Linked DNA regions of Homo sapiens. The protein of the gene in region 1 interacts with the protein of each later gene in a pairwise test. Each region holds a gene or a part of one and is shown in the gene's direction. Other genes may lie near its edges.

What was found. Proteins that work in one complex are often made in the same cells at the same time.
Region 2: the proteins of FAM161A (region 1) and NINL interact in binary tests that used the Homo sapiens proteins (3 or more experiments, as listed by UniProt).
Region 3: the proteins of FAM161A (region 1) and ZNF526 interact in binary tests that used the Homo sapiens proteins (3 or more experiments, as listed by UniProt).
Region 4: the proteins of FAM161A (region 1) and CBY2 interact in binary tests that used the Homo sapiens proteins (3 or more experiments, as listed by UniProt).

What each region holds. Positions count from the first base shown.
Region 1 is NC_000002.12:61,836,003-61,841,356, reverse strand, and holds part of FAM161A (protein FAM161A), read left to right. Parts: intron 1-775; coding exon 776-1,936; intron 1,937-2,651; coding exon 2,652-2,819; exon of another isoform or gene 2,820-3,412; intron 3,413-5,247; coding exon 5,248-5,347; intron 5,348-5,354. UniProt on the Homo sapiens protein: Involved in ciliogenesis.
Region 2 is NC_000020.11:25,469,605-25,474,031, reverse strand, and holds part of NINL (ninein-like protein), read left to right. Parts: intron 1-3,936; coding exon 3,937-4,041; intron 4,042-4,427. UniProt on the Homo sapiens protein: Involved in the microtubule organization in interphase cells. Overexpression induces the fragmentation of the Golgi, and causes lysosomes to disperse toward the cell periphery; it also interferes with mitotic spindle assembly.
Region 3 is NC_000019.10:42,223,312-42,226,933, forward strand, and holds part of ZNF526 (zinc finger protein 526), read left to right. Parts: intron 1-903; 5' UTR 904-994; intron 995-1,075; 5' UTR 1,076-1,092; coding exon 1,093-3,105; 3' UTR 3,106-3,622. UniProt on the Homo sapiens protein: May be involved in transcriptional regulation.
Region 4 is NC_000013.11:45,705,320-45,709,746, forward strand, and holds part of CBY2 (protein chibby homolog 2), read left to right. Parts: intron 1-4,427.

The sequences.
Region 1 (5,354 bases):
ATCGTGTGTGAGGAACTTCACAGGACTGGATATGAATGCAGAATGGAGACTGGGGTAGCCAGTGGTGAGGGGTAAGACTGAAAAGATAGGCGCCAGTCTCGAAGGGCTTGTAATCTAGGCTTGACTTCGTAGCAGTGAGGAATTATCAAAAAGTTTCAAGCAGGGGAATGACATGATCAGATCTATGCTTCAGGACAGTGACTCTGGAAAGTGGGGAGAATTTAATAGAGGTTAGACACAAGGACCCTCTGCCATCTCAGGTTCCTTCCCTGTAAAATGAAGGAGTCAAAGTGGATAATTTATGGGCATTGCCCAGCTCTATTCCAAATAAAAGTGATGATTCTTACAAGCCCTGTCCAGCTCCTCGCTTCTGATTATACCCTGATCTTAGAAAATATGTAACTCTTGGCTGGGCACAGTGGCTCATGCCTGTAATCTCAGCACTTTGGGAGGCGGAGGCAGGCAGATCACGAGGTCAGGAGATTGAGACCATCCTGGGTAACTTGGTAAAACCCTGTCTCTACTAAAAATGCAGAAAATTAGCTGAGCATGGTGGCACAAGCCTGTAGTCCCAGCTACTCGGGAGGCTGAGACAGGAGAATTGCTTGAACCTGGGAGGTGGAGGTTGCAGTGAGCCGATATCACACCACTGCACTCCAACCTGGGCAACAGAGTGAGACTCTGTCTCAGAAAAAAAAAGAAAATATGTAACTCTTAATTTTTATATTTGGTCACATACAACTGAAAGTATAACATAGTTATTCTTCTCATTTAGATCTGTATCAGAAAAGAACTCCTATCACCCTGTCTCATTAATGACATCATTTTCAGAGCCTGATTTAGGCCAGTCTTCCTCCTTGTATGTGTCCTCCTCTGAAGAGGAGTTACCCAACCTAGAAAAAGAGTATCCTAGGAAAAACAGAATGATGACCTATGCTAAGGAGCTCATCAACAATATGTGGACAGACTTTTGTGTTGAGGATTATATTCGCTGTAAAGATACTGGCTTCCATGCAGCTGAAAAAAGAAGGAAGAAACGAAAAGAATGGGTGCCCACAATTACAGTACCGGAGCCTTTTCAAATGATGATAAGAGAACAGAAGAAAAAAGAAGAGTCCATGAAATCTAAATCAGATATCGAAATGGTACATAAAGCGCTCAAAAAACAAGAAGAGGATCCAGAGTATAAGAAGAAATTCCGAGCCAATCCAGTTCCTGCATCTGTCTTTCTCCCCCTTTACCATGATTTAGTCAAGCAAAAAGAAGAACGGAGAAGGTCTCTGAAGGAGAAAAGCAAAGAAGCTCTTTTGGCCTCACAAAAGCCATTTAAATTTATAGCAAGGGAGGAACAGAAGCGAGCAGCCCGGGAAAAGCAGCTGAGAGACTTTCTTAAGTATAAAAAGAAAACAAATCGATTTAAAGCCAGACCCATTCCTCGATCTACTTATGGTTCAACTACCAATGACAAGTTAAAAGAAGAAGAGCTCTATCGAAACCTTAGGACACAGCTGAGAGCCCAGGAGCATTTACAGAACTCATCTCCTCTGCCTTGTAGGTCAGCTTGTGGATGCAGGAACCCCAGGTGTCCTGAACAGGCTGTAAAGTTGAAGTGTAAACACAAGGTTAGGTGCCCAACTCCTGATTTTGAGGACCTTCCTGAGAGATACCAGAAACACCTCTCAGAACACAAGTCTCCAAAACTCTTAACAGTGTGTAAACCATTTGATCTTCATGCATCTCCACATGCATCTATTAAAAGAGAAAAAATTTTGGCAGACATCGAAGCAGATGAAGAAAATTTAAAAGAAACACGTTGGCCTTATTTGTCTCCAAGGCGTAAGTCACCAGTAAGATGTGCAGGTGTAAACCCTGTGCCTTGTAACTGCAACCCTCCCGTGCCCACGGTATCTTCCAGAGGACGAGAACAAGCCGTAAGGTAAGTAAGTAGGACGCAGTACTGACTGACTCATGGTTGCCAGATGAGTGTATGCAGCTCTGTGGAGTTTATGTTGGTAAATTTGAAAATACTTAGAAATTATTATTGTATCTATAAGATATTTTACTATATAATATATGATATTTTGTCAGAGGGTATTCTAAGAAATGAATATATTTTTCATTTATAAATTTTGGGGGATTAGAAAATAATAGTCTTAAGATTTCTAGTTTTACCTGGCTGGGCACAGTGGCTTACACCTGTAATCCCAGTGCTTTGGGAGGTCGAGGCAGGTGGATCACAAGGTCAGGAGTTCAAGACCACCCTGGCCGAGATAATGAAACCCCCATCTCTACTAAAAATACAAAAAATTAGCTGGGCGTGGTGGCGGGTGCCTGTAATCCCAGCTACTCAGGAGGCTGAGGCAGGAGAATCGCTTGAATCCAGGAGGCAGAGGTTGCAGTGAGCCGAGATCACGCCATGGCACTCCAGCCTGGGCGACAGAGCGAGACTCCATCTCAAAAAAAATAAATAAATAAATAAATAAATAAATAAATAAATAAATATTTCTAGTTTTACAGGTCAGATCCTTTTCAAAAGGTTACCTTTTTTCAAATTTTGAATTATCAAAATTCAAATTATCCCATGTTAAATCTTTGCTAAACAACATTCTGATTGGCTTAAAGTGGATTAAGCCTTAGTTTGTTACCCTCAGGAGATCACTTGAGGAAAAGAAAATGTTGGAAGAAGAGAGAAATCGGATCCTAACTAAACAGAAGCAAAGAATGAAAGAATTGCAGAAACTCCTGACAACCCGGGCTAAGGCTTATGACTCACATCAAAGTTTAGCTCAAATATCTAAATCCAGAGTAAAATGTCTCAGGTATCATGAAAAAATCTTGAATCTCCAGACCACTGGTTTTCAAACTCTTTTTTTTTTAATCAGTAGATAGTAAAATATGAGCAGATTGAAAATAGCATTAGTGTTTTAGCTTATGGATTTAAATTGTCATCAGTTACTTGTGTTCAGTGCACACACACTCACCTCATGGTGAGAACCAACATATAAACTCACCTTTATGGTGAGAACCATGAAGCTATGTTGATGAATACAGACATTTTCTATTGTGGCCTTAGTTAATGGTTATAATCTTATACCAATATCTGATCTTGTTCTTTATATTATTTTTGATTGCAGTAAACAGATATATCAAAGAGCTTTGTTCTAAGGTTTGGATGAAATCTGATAGCACAAATTAACACGTTAAACATCGGTTATGTGATGTGTTCATTAGCACATATGTTAATGTTTAGTAGTATGTGTTGCATTTTGTTAGTTTCAATATAAAAATATTCACGGAATTCTTAGAACCCCTTCACTAGAATTTTGCAGTACAAAGTTTGAAAACCAGTGTTCCAGATGTTGCACATAAAAATGTTGATGTTTAAGTAGGAAACTATCTCCCTCAAAGCCAGGTAAGTAATGTGATTTATTACTTTTTAATCTGATTTCTAAATATGCATATGTGCTTTTAATTACAATGAGTATTCTTTTATAATTTAGCTTTAATCCATTGATAAAGGGAGCTTAATTTGATGAACGTGAGCATAATGTTTCTTAGAAATAGATTACTTACCCTTAGGAAGTAAACTATTAATAGCTTTTTATTTTTTATTTATTTATTTTTTTGAGACAGAGTCTCGCTCTGTCACCTAGGCTGGATCCCGAGTTCAAGCGATTCTCCTGCCTCAGCTTACAGAGTAGCTGGGATTACAGGTGCTCACCACCACGCCTAGCTAATTTTTGTATTTTTGGTAGAGATGAGGTTTTGCCATGTTGGCCAAGCTGGTCTCAAACTCCTGACCTCAGGTGATCTGCCTACCTTGGCCTCCCAAAGTGCTGGGATTACAGGCGTGAGCCACCGTGCCTGGACAATAGCTTTTTCATAACACCAACTTGTGTATAATTAAGCCTAATTATCATTTAAAAGTATAATTATTTTCCCCAATCCATTAATCTTATTTATCTTGGTAGCAATTATATCTTACATAGAGAAAATAGTGTAGTTTAATTTATTATAGGATCTTGCTCAAACAGTGAGAACACTTACGGTAAATTTATATATTTTGGTTCCTGTTTCTCTTTATGTTGTATTCCCATGCTCTTTACTTCTCCTTTGACTTGCTCCCATTGAATTAACTTTGCCACTAACCTGTAGGAGATCTTATTTAGGGGAAAAAAATAACAGCAAAGGCTGGATGCCATGGCTCACATCTGTAATCCCAACACCTCAGGAGTACAAGGCAGGAAGATTGCTTGAGCCCAGGAGTTTGAGACCAGCCTGGTAAACATAATGAGACCCCCATCTCTACAAAAAATTTAAAAAAATTAGCCAGGTGTGGTGGCATGCCCCTGTAGTTCCACCTACTCGAGAGCTAAGGTGGGAGGATCATTTGAGCCCAGGAAGTCAAAGCTGCAGTCAGCCATGATTGCACCACTGCACTCCAGCCTGGACAACAAAGTGAGAACCTGTCTCAAAATTAATAGGCCAGGCGCAATGGCTCATGCCTGTAATCCCAGCACTTTGAGAGGCCAAGACAGGCAGATCACCTGAGGTCAGGAGTTCAAGACCAGCCTGGCCAACATGGTGAAACCCTCATCTCTACTAAAAATACAGAAAATTAGCCAGGCATGGTGGTGCACACCTGTAATCTCAGCTATTCGGGAAGCTGAGGCACGAGAATTGCATGAACCCAGGAGGTAGAAGTTGCAGTGAGCTGAGATTGTGCCACCGCACCAGCCTGAGCAACAGAATGAGACTCCATCTCAAAACAAAAGTAAATAACAACAACAATAAAATAATAATAAAAAATAAGAGCAAAGTCTTGTTTTCAGGAGAAATTCCTTACAGAGAAGATAGCTAATTTGTTCCAAAATTTTCTTGGTTTTATACACTTATAAATGAGACAAGAGGACTTTCATTCATCTTTTCAGGGCAGTTTGAAGTCCCTTAAAATATTTATGCCTTGAGGATTTCAGAAATTAAAGTGTCCAGACTATTCCTAGAGCATAATATGTGTGATCTCAGAACCTAGGATTTTATTCTGCATTCCATGAGAATTAACCGGTATAGAAGAGGAATCGAGGTAAACTGTGAACTGTGCTTATAATTTCTGATTTGTCAGCTAAGCTAAATGTTATTTCTTTTTTTTCATTGACTTTGTACAAGTTGATAAGTTAAATGTTACATATGTAAGTTCTTATTTCTTAGATGATCTTTTAAAATTCCATTGCTTTTCTTTAATTTTAGAAAGAGCGAAAAGGAAAGGATGAGAGAATACCAACGAGAACTAGAAGAAAGAGAAGAAAAATTAAAAAAGAGGCCACTGCTATTTGAAAGAGTTGCTCAGGTTGTGT
Region 2 (4,427 bases), on another chromosome or scaffold:
TAATGTCACATAGTCTCTGTTAGAGGCCAGTATTGTGCCATCCACAGTAGGTATCTGACTTTTGTGCTCTGGTTACTTCTGAGACCTGTATCTTTAGTGGTTTTTATTTGCTGTGTGCATTTCTTTCTTTTTAACTTTTTATTTATTTATTTATTTATTTTTTTGAGACGGAGTCTCACTCTGTTGCCCAGACTGGAGTGCAGTGGTACAACCTCAGCTCACTGCAACCTTTGCCTCCCAAGTTCAAGCAATTGTCCTGCATCAGCCTCCCAAGTAGCTGGGATTACATGTGCCCACCACCATGCCCAGCTGATGTGTGTGTGTGTGTGTGTGTGTGTGTGTGTGTGTGTGTGTGTATGTGTGTATTTTTACTACAGACGGGGTTTCACCATGTTGGCCAGGCTGGTCTTGAACTCCTGGCCTCAAGTGATTTGCCTGCCTCATCCTCACAAAGTGCTGGGATTACATAAGGCCTGAGCCACCAGGCCTGGCCACTTTGTTTTATTTTATTTTATTTTATTTTATTTTATTTTATTTATTTTATTATTTTATTTTATATTTTATTTTATTTTATTCATTGTAGAGATAGTCTCTCACTATTTTGCCCAGGCTGGTCTCAAACTCCTGGCCTCAAGCGATCCTTCTGCCTCAGCCTCCCAAAGTGGATCCTCCTTGAAATTACAGGTGTGAGCCACCATGCCCAGCCTCTTTTTAACTTTTTATTAAAGTGTGATACACATAAGAAAATGTATATATTTGTACAATTAGGAGAATTGTCAACAAATTGAACACGTCTGTGTTACCAGCGCCCAGAACAAGAGATGGAATTCACCAGAGTCCCCGGGGTAACCACTTCTTACAGCATAGATTCAGTTTGCTTGTTTTTGTACTTTATGGAGAGGAATCATGCAGTGTGTACTCTTCTGTGTCTGACTTTCTTGGCTCAACCTGGTTGTGCGATTGATCTGTGTTGTTGCTGTAGTTCATACATTTGCATTGCTGTGTGGTATTCTGTTGTGTGAACATACCACAGTTTATTCTTTTCTCCTGTTGATGGGCATTTGGGTAGTTCCTAGTTTTTGGCTCTCACAAATGGAACTGCACTGAACGTTCTTGCATTTGTCTTTTGGAGCATTATGTTGGGCTGTACCTAGAAATGGGATTGTTATGTTGTGGGTATAGGCATAGTTTTCTTTTTGTTCATCCTACTTAGAAAACATTGTCCCAGCCAGGCACAGTGGCTCACACCTATAATCCCAGGACTCTGGGAGCCCAGGAGTTCAAGATCAGTCTGGGCAACATAAGGAGACTGTTTTCTACAAAAACTTAAGAAAAATTAGTCACACATGGTGGCACGCACCTTTGGTCCCAGCTATTTGGGAGGCTAGATGGGAGGATCACTTGAGCCTGGGAGGTTGAGGCTGCAGTGAGCTGAGATTGCACCACTGCACTCCAGCCTGGGCGGCAGAGCAAAAGGGAAAAAAAAAAAAAAAAGAAATATTTTCCCTGTTGAATGTATGGATTGCATTGGTGTCTCATGAAAATCTCTCAGCCATTACTATTAAAATATTGCCTCTCCGGAGGTTGCAGTGAGCCAAGATCGCGCCATTGCACTCCAGCCAGGGCAACAAGAGCAAAACTCCGTCTCAAAAACAAAAAAAAAGTATATATATATATATATATATATATATATATATATATATATATCCTCTCCTCCCACTATTTTCTTCAATTAGATATGTGACTGTTAGAGCATTTCACTTTATGTCTCAACCTCTCTTTTATATTTTCCATCTTCTGTCTGTATCACATTTGGGGTATTTTTTACATACCTATGTGTTCCAGGTCAGTATCTCTTTCTTTCAGCTCTGTGTAATCTGCTATTTAAACCATCCCATGAGTTTTTATTTTGACATTGACTTTTTGTTCATTTCTAAAAATTCTGTTTGGTCCTGTCTGATCATTGTCAATAGTTTCTTGTTGCTTGTTCATTGTTTGTTGCTGTCTTTTATTTATGTAAACATTTCATAACACTTATTTTTAGTTTGTGTCTAATAAGTCCAATACCTGCAGTTTCTAGAGGATTGAATTCTGGCTTCTGGCTTCTGCTGTCATTTATGGGTGGCTTTGCTCCATGTATGTTATGGTGATCTTTGATTGTGAGCTCATATTTGCTTGATGTTAATCTCTGGGAATATAAAGAGCCTTATATGGGATGCTATTGCTTTTGCAGAGAAGTGAGAAGGTGCTAATCTGGGACTGTCTGAACCTCCTTCCAGGGCCCTGTCTGGTGCAGGTGTCCACAGTGCAGCTTCTCCATTCTGCTAATAGCAGTGCTGACACATAGGCATTGGTTGCAAGGTCCCCCCAGCTTTGTGTTGCATAGTGCTCACGCGTTGGTTTCAGCTTCCAGGATTTTGTTTTGTTTGGAGATTCTTGCAGGTTTTCTTTTCTTTCCATGAGGACAGTCACAGAGGTTGCGATCAGCTTTGCGCAGGATCTAGTTGTTTGGTGGTCATGTGGGGGATGGGGTAGGGCACCCCTCAGCTTTCGGCCTTGCATCAACTTGTTCTCCATTCTAGAGCCAGAGTGATAGTTTAAAAACACAGAACTCTCCTGCTTGAAACCCTTTGCTGCCTTTAATTCCAGTGACTATTTATTTTTGTCTTTAGTTCCTCATGAGATAAAATGAAGGCATATGAAGAAGATACTTATGTTTACTATTATAAGTATAATACATAAAGCGGGCTGGGCGTGGTGGCTCACATCTGTGATCCCAGCACTTTGGGAGGCCTAGGTGAGAGGATCACCAGGAATTCGAGACCAGCCTGGGCAACCTATCGAGACCCCATCTCCACCACAACAAAAATTATCCAGGCGTGGTGGCGCATGCCTACTGTAGTCCCAGCTCCTGGGCCTGGGAGTTCAAGGCTGCAGTGAGCCATGATCGTGCCACAGTACTCCAGCCTGGGTGACAGAATGAGACCCCATCTCAAAGAAAAAACAAAAAAATACATGAAGTGAACATGGTGAGATCATGTGGCTTTCAGTATTTTCAGACTGAAAAAATAAGAAGCTAGTACCATATGGAGACCTATTTGGGGAATACACGTTAGCCTTACCAGTCAGTATTAAGAATGCATTCTCTGGGTAGCAAGTATGGGTCTTAAGCTACTTCACTGGTGATCTTTTTTGTTTTTTCACAGACAAGGTCTCACTATGTTGCCCAGGAGGGTCTCAAACTCCTGGGCTCAAGCAGTCTTCCTGCCTCAGCCTCCCCAGTAGCTGGGATTACAGATGCATGCCGCCACTCCTGGCTCCCATTAGTGATCTTCATTGGTAAATTGCCATCTTCATCTATCAAATCAATGGCATTACCCAAGCAGGGACTCCCTGAGTTGTCAGAGAACAAAGACGGCCCAGGCAGACTTGGTTCACATAGTGGCTGTCTATCCCTGCCTTTTCCCACTTTGAGATTCACCTAGCAGAGGTTTCCCATATATCTTGGCCTTCTGATTCCTGTGTTTCTTAGCTCCACACTGAGTTCACTGCCAGGGCATGAGTACCCTGCAGTACCTGAGGACTCACGCCCAGCACTGGCAACCAGGACACACGTTTGGTGAGAGGCCATAGATGCAGGAGCAGTTCAGCTATAAACTCAGCATAAGCAAAACCCAAGGTTCTGAGTGCATTTGTGACTTGATGGCGTGGCAGTGTAGAAGCTAAGAAAGTTCCGTTTTCTGTGGCTTGGCTCATGGGAGATGTAAGACGTTAACACCTGGTGCAGGAAGAGGGAAAGGAATGGTGTCTGGCGCCACCTCCAGGGACGGGGAGATGGGGACGCACAGTTCTCAGGACTCCCCGCTGCAGAGCCAGCCTCCGTGACCACATGTGGCTCCCCAAGTGCTCACCGGTCTTTTCTCAATTTTTACGCAGACTGGAGTTCCATAGACTTTCTGAAGAAAACACTTTGTTGAAAAACGATCTGGGAAGGGTTCGGCAAGAGCTTGAAGCTGCAGAAAGTACTCACGATGCACAGAGGTAAGGGCCACGCCCCTACCCAGACCTTCTGGGGGTGCGTTTTGCCCTCCGTAGAGTGACCTTATGCAGTCTCCATATAGACAGTGGGAAGTGTTCTCAGATTAGCCCTGCATTCCAGAAAACCCTAAACCATGAGCCTTGTTAACTTCTGAACGACTCGGCAGATGTGGGAGGCTCTGGCCTCCTTCCTCGTGTGGGCGGCACCTGAACGCCCCAGCTCCTTGGTGTGGGAAGTGAGGCAGAGTGCCCACAGCATGGTCGGGACTGCGAGCAGAGCCCTAGCACAGGCGCCGTTCACCCCACAGAGATGATGCACGTCGCACTTAGGGGTTGGGGGAGGCCACAACAGTGTCTGTAGGGGTCAGAGGTGCTCCTAGGATCCTCTC
Region 3 (3,622 bases), on another chromosome or scaffold:
TCTTGGCCAACATGGTGAAACCCCATCTCTACTAAAAATACAAAAATTGGCCGGGCGTGGTGGCTCATGCCTGTAATCCCAGCACTTTGGGACGCCCAGGCGGGCAGATCACGAGGTCAGGAGATTGAGATTGTCCTGGCTAACACGGTGAAACCCTGTCTCTACTAAAAATACAAAAAATTAGCCGGGCGTGGTTGCAGGCGCCTGTAGTCCCAGCTACTCGGGAGGCTGAGCCAGGAGAATGGCCTGAACCTGGGAGGCAGAGCTTGCAGTGAGCAGAGATTGCACCACTGCACTCCAGCCTGGGCGACAGAGCGAGCCTCCATCTCAACAATAACAACAAAAAAATACAAAAATTAGCTGGGCATGGTGGCGCACACTTGTAGTCCCAGCTACTCGGGAGGCTGAGACAGGAGAATCACTTGAACCTAGGAGGTGGAGGTTGTAGTGAGCCGAGATTGCGCCACTGTACTCTAGCCTGGCAACAGAGCAAGAGTCCATCTCAAAAAAAAAAAAAAAAAAAAAAAGAGGCCGGGCTGTTGGCCGGGGTGGTGGCTCACATCTGTAATCCCAGCACTTTGGGAGGCCAAGGCGGGTGGATCACCTGAGGTCAGGAGTTCAAGACCAGCCTGGCCAACATGGTGAAACCTTGTCTCTACTAAAATATATATATATATATATATATATATATACAAAAATTAGCCAGGCATGGTGGCACACCCCTGTAGTCCCGGCCACTCAGGAGGCTGAGGCACGAGAATAGCTTGAACCCAGGAGCGAGAGGTTGCAGTGAGCCAAGATTGTGCCACTGCACTCCAGCTTGGGTGACAGACCAAGTCTCTGTCTCAGAAGAAAAAAAAAAAAAAAAAAGAGGCTGGGCTGAGTGGTGTTTCTCTCCTGCAGGCTGCCGTGGGGTGTGTGTAGGCTTCAGAGACATGGGATCACGGAAGACTGAAGCAGAAACAGTGGATTAAGACTTCCTGAGCGATAGCTGGTGAGTAGTGGGATGTGCAAGAGAATTCCACCTCCCCTTGGTTTCCTGCTGTCTCACTGGCTCCTGCCCCTCTTTCTCCAGGCACTGCCTTCCCCACAATGGCAGAGGTGGTGGCTGAGGTGGCCGAGATGCCAACACAGATGTCACCAGGGGCAGTGGAGATGTCAACACCTATGTCGGCAGAGATGATGGAGATGTCAACAGAAGTGACTGAGATGACACCTGGGGAGGCCCTTGCCTCATCCCTCTTCTTCCAGCATCACCAGTTCATGTGCTCTGAGTGTGGCAGCCTCTATAACACACTGGAGGAAGTCCTCTCACACCAGGAGCAGCACATGCTTGCTGTCTCAGAGGAGGAGGCACTGACCACACAGAATGTTGGCCTGGAGCCGGAGCTGGTGCCGGGTGCTGAGGGGCCCTTCCAGTGTGGTGAATGCAGCCAGCTCATCCTCTCCCCTGGGGAGCTCCTGGCCCACCAGGATGCCCACCTCCGAGAGTCTGCAAACCAGATCCAATACCAGTGCTGGGACTGCCAGGAGCTGTTCCCCTCGCCCGAGCTGTGGGTGGCTCATCGAAAGGCCCAGCACCTTTCTGCTACGGTAGCTGAGCCACCAGTGCCACCTCCTTTGCCTCCCCCAACACCACTGCCTCCACCTTCTCCCCCATCCGAAGTCAAGATGGAGCCCTATGAGTGTCCTGAGTGCTCTACCCTCTGCGCCACCCCTGAGGAGTTCTTGGAGCATCAGGGCACCCACTTTGACTCCCTAGAGAAAGAGGAGCGCAATGGGTTGGAGGAGGAGGAAGAGGACGATGAGGAGGATGAAGAAGATGATGAAGAGATGGAGGATGAGGAGGCCATGGCAGAGGTCGGTGATGATGCTGTGGGAGGTGACGAGTCCACAGCTGGCTGGGCTCAGGGCTGCGGGGACTGTCCCCAGCACCAGCCCTCAGCAGGGGCTCGCCGGCAACACCGGCGGACGGCTCACAGCCCGGCATCTGCCACCCACCCCTTCCACTGCAGCCAGTGTCAGCGCAGTTTCAGCTCCGCCAACCGGCTGCAGGCTCATGGGCGGGCCCATGTTGGTGGCACACATGAGTGTACAACCTGCTCCAAGGTCTTCAAGAAAGCAGCATCGCTTGAGCAGCACTTGCGGCTGCATCGCGGGGAAGCCCGCTACCTCTGTGTAGACTGTGGCCGCGGCTTTGGCACAGAACTCACGTTGGTGGCTCACCGGCGGGCCCACACTGCCAACCCATTGCATCGCTGTCGTTGCGGCAAGACGTTCAGCAACATGACCAAGTTCCTCTACCACCGGCGCACTCACGCCGGCAAAAGCGGGGCACCTCCCACAGGAGCAACAGCTCCCCCAGCTCCAGCGGAGCCCACCCCTCCACCACCACCCCCTGCCCCACCTGCCCAGCTGCCCTGCCCACAGTGCTCCAAGTCCTTTGCCTCAGCTTCCCGGCTGTCCCGGCACCGGCGTGCAGTACACGGGCCCCCTGAACGGCGTCACCGCTGTGGGGTTTGTGGCAAGGGCTTCAAGAAGCTGATCCACGTGCGCAACCACCTGCGGACACACACGGGTGAGAGGCCCTTCCAGTGCCACTCATGTGGCAAGACCTTTGCTTCTTTGGCCAACCTCAGCCGCCACCAGCTGACCCATACGGGTGCACGTCCCTACCAATGCCTGGACTGTGGCAAGCGCTTCACACAGAGCTCCAACCTGCAGCAGCACCGGCGGTTGCACTTGCGGCCAGTCGCCTTTGCCCGCGCCCCCCGCCTCCCCATCACTGGTCTCTACAACAAGAGTCCCTACTACTGCGGGACTTGTGGCCGCTGGTTCCGCGCCATGGCGGGCTTGCGACTGCATCAGCGGGTCCATGCCCGAGCTCGGACTTTGACGCTACAGCCTCCCAGATCACCATCTCCTGCCCCACCCCCACCTCCAGAGCCTCAACAGACTATCATGTGCACAGAGCTGGGGGAGACCATCGCCATCATTGAGACATCCCAGCCACTGGCGCTTGAGGACACCCTGCAGCTGTGCCAGGCTGCACTGGGGGCCAGTGAAGCAGGCGGGCTCTTGCAGTTGGACACGGCCTTCGTGTGACGCAGCTGAAAAGCAACAACAAAAGGGTTTGGTTGCAACAGCCAGTGTGGGTACCTCTGGGGAGAGAGGACCTCCTCTGACAAACTGGTCTGGTACCCACCATGTGCCAGGATCCACCCTGGCCTCTTTTTACCCACTGACTCCCCAGAACAACCCTTCCAGGCTTCTCTTGTCATCTTTCTCTGCCTGAGGGGAAACTGAAGCTCTGAAATGCGATGTGATCTGTACCAGGTCACCCAGCTATGCTGCAAAGTGGGTTGGCCAAGGCCCTTTGCACTGCATCACCCTGGTGCCCAGCAACATCAGGTAACCTTCACTGAGCACCAAGCTTATGCCAGGTCTGTGCTGGCCACTCTCATATACCTCTTCAGATCCTCTGCTTGTACCCCCAGCCCTTGCCTTCCCTGGATTTTGGGCACCCAGGACTTTGCTCTGCCTGGTGGAGGGTACTTGATTTCTCTGGGCTTCCTTCATCTCAATTCTGACAGTGTGGAAGGAAATCTGTAGGTACCCAGGT
Region 4 (4,427 bases), on another chromosome or scaffold:
AATTTCATTAAGGCATTGTTTACTCCTAGATCATTAATGAAAGAGCTACACCAGGTCAGACTGAGCTCCAATAGCACCCTCCGGTGCCTCCTTCATCCTTCCCAGTTGCCTTTTCTCCTTCCCCTTTGTTTGTGCTTGTTACTCAGAAGCAGTGAATTCCTGCTGACAGCACCCGCCAATTTGAATTCCCAGGAAGATTTCAGGAGAGTCTCTGTTAAACAGTATGCAAACATACTACATATGACATCTTCTTTATCCTCTTTGCTGTTAACGTTGTAATTCTGTCAACATCAATCACATTTACCTTGTGAATTATCCTTTTACCTGTTAGTATTTATTAAAACCACCATTGACTTTGCCATGGTACCAGGGAGCTGAATTAATTTAAAATAATGATAATGAGACTCAGCCTTGTCATCTCATATGAAAATCAGTATCATATTTGGCTTTTCCTTCCAGAATCCTGGGTCCTCTCAACTTCACATGCTTTAATAGTACCTCAGATGGCTGAATGTTCTCTGATAGTAACCCTCAGTAATGTTGGCAAAGTTGGTGTTTAAGAAACTTGGTCAGCAGGCTTGGACTCTATCAGCAGTGTTTGGACATCTCTTCTGGGCTGTGGTAGCCACATTTTTCCAGGGGTGGAGAGACATCAGTGTGTGTCAGCTAAGCCTGGCTAGTTGCTGTTCAATCCCATCCCCAAACTCTTTGGATGGGAAACCACACCCCCAGTAATTCTATCCCAGAAGGTCCCACCCAGAGAGACCTGTTGCTACAAGTCCTGTAGCACTAGTAAGAGATTTTGGTCCTTTCACTTCCCCTTTTCCTTTTGCCCTTTGGCCTTTGCATTTTGCCTCCCTTCTTTCAATTGTCCCCTTCCCCCATGTTCTTCACTTGCCACCAGGTTGGTGATCTGACAAAGACACAGTTGTTGGCAGATTTCAGGCATTTTCCTTCCAGGACCACTTATATTTACCAAGGAGGGCACCAGACCTAATGCTAAGGAAGAATTCCAATCCACAGATGGGACTTCAGGCTTCTGTGAGGGCGATGTTCGTGCCCATGGCCCTTCCTGGATCCCTGTCACTAATGCATCATTGGGTTACAGCTATGAGCACATTTCCCCTGAGGACAGAGTCTCTTGGCACCTTTCTAGCACCCGACAGGAAGGCATGATGAGCCCATGACCAACTTATTCCCCTTCTGCATCAGCTTCATATCTCATTCCTCCATGAAGAAGCCAACCTTTTTCTTTCCTACCTACTGGATCTCTATGTGAGGGCATTTCCTAGAGACCAGAAAAGAGACAATCTTTTATTTTCATGGTCAGTTGCACCATGCTACACAGGCTGTACCTCCCAGGCTTAGGAGAACATTACTGGGGTGTTCTTGGGGCTTTGTATTGGCATAGACCTCTTGTCAAGGGCTAAAGGATATCAGGGCAGGTTAGCTTGGCCCATGAAACCAATCCAGTGATACCACTGGTCGAGGAGTCCTACTGAGAAGGAACTGGCTTCTAACATAGGCCAAGGAGGTCTGGAATCCTGGAACTGCATATGTTCGCTGAGCTCAGATGCTTAGTTTTTGGGTAGCCCTTTTGTAAAGAAATATACTCCACGTTGCATAGCGCTTTAGGCTGGGTATGTTTAAACCTTACCAGTAGAACTGACCATCTGTTTAGTCTTTATGACAGCTTGGCTACCACTTTCTTGTCCTCTGGCAACCCCAGGAAGTAGGCAGAGCAGCCATGTTTAGGCTTATTTTAGAGGTGACATTCTGAGAGGCAAAATGACTTTCTCAAGAGCAGTCAAAGGAAGGACTTTTGAGCCCAAAGTTACTGGAAATTTAGGGCGTTTACCCTCGTTGGATTATATATTCAAGATGATGAAAGGGACCACTAGCGTGCTTGTGTGCAGGGGGTGGTGGGAGCTTCCTCTAAGGGAGTACATGGATGAACCTAGGGGTTTGTGGAATTCACGTGAGGAAAACTCCATGCTTATAGATTTTACATCATACCATAACAGCTTTGCCCTGGGACTATTTTAAAGTCTTAAAATATGAATGGAAATGAGGATATAGCTTATCAAATACACTAACTATATTAAGGCAAAAGAAATGGCCATTTTTGTAGGCCAAAAATGGTAAAATGTTAACAGTTTCTTATGGTTCAACCTAGTATTTCCTCCCAATCTTTCAGTGTATTTTGGTTGATTCAGTTATTGCCAAGGACTCATTAAGCCTCCACCACATGTGAAATTTGCTTTCTAATTCCCAAGACTTGGGATGTCACAAAAACAAGGGATAGGTCACTGTGCTTAGATAATTGCAACTTACTCATATGGGGAGAGGACAGGCCTGGTTGTAAGAGAACCATTGCAAAGTAATGATATTAGCACATGCAAAATAAAATGTCTGAGCATTGTGAAGTGCTAGAATAAACATGGAGTTTGGAGTCAAATATCCTCATTTTAAACCCTGGTTCCACTCCTTTATCAGCTATGTAATCTTATGCAGAATCATGCCAGTTCTTTGGGTAAGATATTACATATGAATACAGAAATCAATTAGCATATAACCTGACACATTATAGTCACTCAGTGTTATTTTTTTTCTTGTTCTATATAATCTTTCTCTAAAGAAATGCTAAGCAATGTCTCTTCTAAAAGCCCTTCTTGTATGTCTGCAGCTCTTTATAAACAAAGAAAATGTTCCGAGTCTCCTTTTATTTCTGAACAACAAACCCTCTGAGAGAAGTAGGGCAGATGTTGGTGAGGTCGTTATAGAGGGTTGTACAGGTTGTGCCCTGCAGTAACAGTGAATAGCGCCTTTTAGAGTTGGGCATTTCAAAAATATATGGGTTGGCCCTGATTCATTCATGTCAACATCCACATTTTCTAGGAACTAAGGCACAGAAATGAAGTGACTTTGTAAAGGTCATGCACTCATATAGTGCAGAGCCAGAATTCTCTGGAGATGTTATCATTTCTAGTCCCCTATTCCCCACACCTTGCTGCCTGCGTTAATGCTTCCTGCATTTTGACTTCTCTCATTTGCATCAAGAAGTAATTGGTGCTATTCACTGATTCTTCAAATCAACTGGAAATTCCCTGAGGGCAGGGTCTGTGAGCTTGGAACACAGTACGTGCCAAATTAATGTTAGTTGATTCACTGACACTAATGTAGGGGAAAAATTGGTGCAATAACATCCTGAGTGGGTACATGACTAGGGTGAAGAATTTTCACAAGGCCAAGAGCTTTCCTTTAAGGATTAAATCCAGCTAGCTCTGATCAGAATCAGAGAAATGCTACAGGAAAAAACAAGTTTGTTCTGGATCAATGTTTTCCTGAAGTTCAATCATGATCCTTGTCATGTCTAAAAATGCCTGTATATTTAATATAGGTATGTTTTCCCATTACTCATTAAAATAAGTATATGACTACTGAAAAATTTTTAAATGTTCTAAGAAATTAAGCCATGAGGAAACACTGCACTTGACCACTTTCTTGGTCCTGTCTGAGGATAGGAGGAAAGATAATAGGACTCAGTCATTGGAGAAGAATTTGGTTTCCTGTTGAGAAAGTAAAGGGGACTTATTTGTCCATCAGCATTTCCTGGATTAGGTGCTGTGGGCATGGAACAAGAGAAGGCACAAAGCCTGCTTGGGAAGAGTTGGCCATTTAGGGGAGAGGACGAGATGCCAACTAGGTTGGTAAAAGAGGGCTGCTGGGGCCATAGTGGTGCCAATTTACAAATGCAAATCCACTGGACCAGAGACAGTTAGGCCAAGAGAGCACTTAGAGATAATGACTCTTACCCTTCATTTTACAGAAGTGGAAACTAAGGTCAGAAAGTGAGTGGATATGAGCAAGATCACCTGAATGTGTGAATAAAGACCAGGGCACAAACACCCAGGTTGTCCGTGGCTAGGGATCCACCATATGTTAAGGTTTTGTTTAGTGTATTTCTGTTGAGGGGATGACAGAATGTTCCTTGGGTACCCAGTGTGGAAGGTGGATGTAGAACACAGGCAGCTGAATGCCATGGGTTAAAAGCCATCATGGCCAAATATGGACAGGTAGAAAGCATCCATGATTCCTCTTTGGACCCTTAGTTGGATCAAGAAGATTGTCTCTCTGGCTGAAACAAAACGATCGTTAAAAAGAAATGAGAATTGGGGAAATTTGAACATGGGCTCAGTATTCGCAGATATTGAGGGATAATTGTTAAATGTTAAAGGGTGATAATGGTATTGTGATTCTGTTAAAGAGGCACATATTTATATATTTGTGGATAAGATGACACAATGTCACTTTGCTTTAAGATAACCTAGCGGTAGGGGAGTGGTTGTGGAATCAGGTTGAGGCCTGGTGAAACAAGTGTGGCCTTGATTTGATACTTGGTGAAGCTGAGTGATGGGTACATGGAC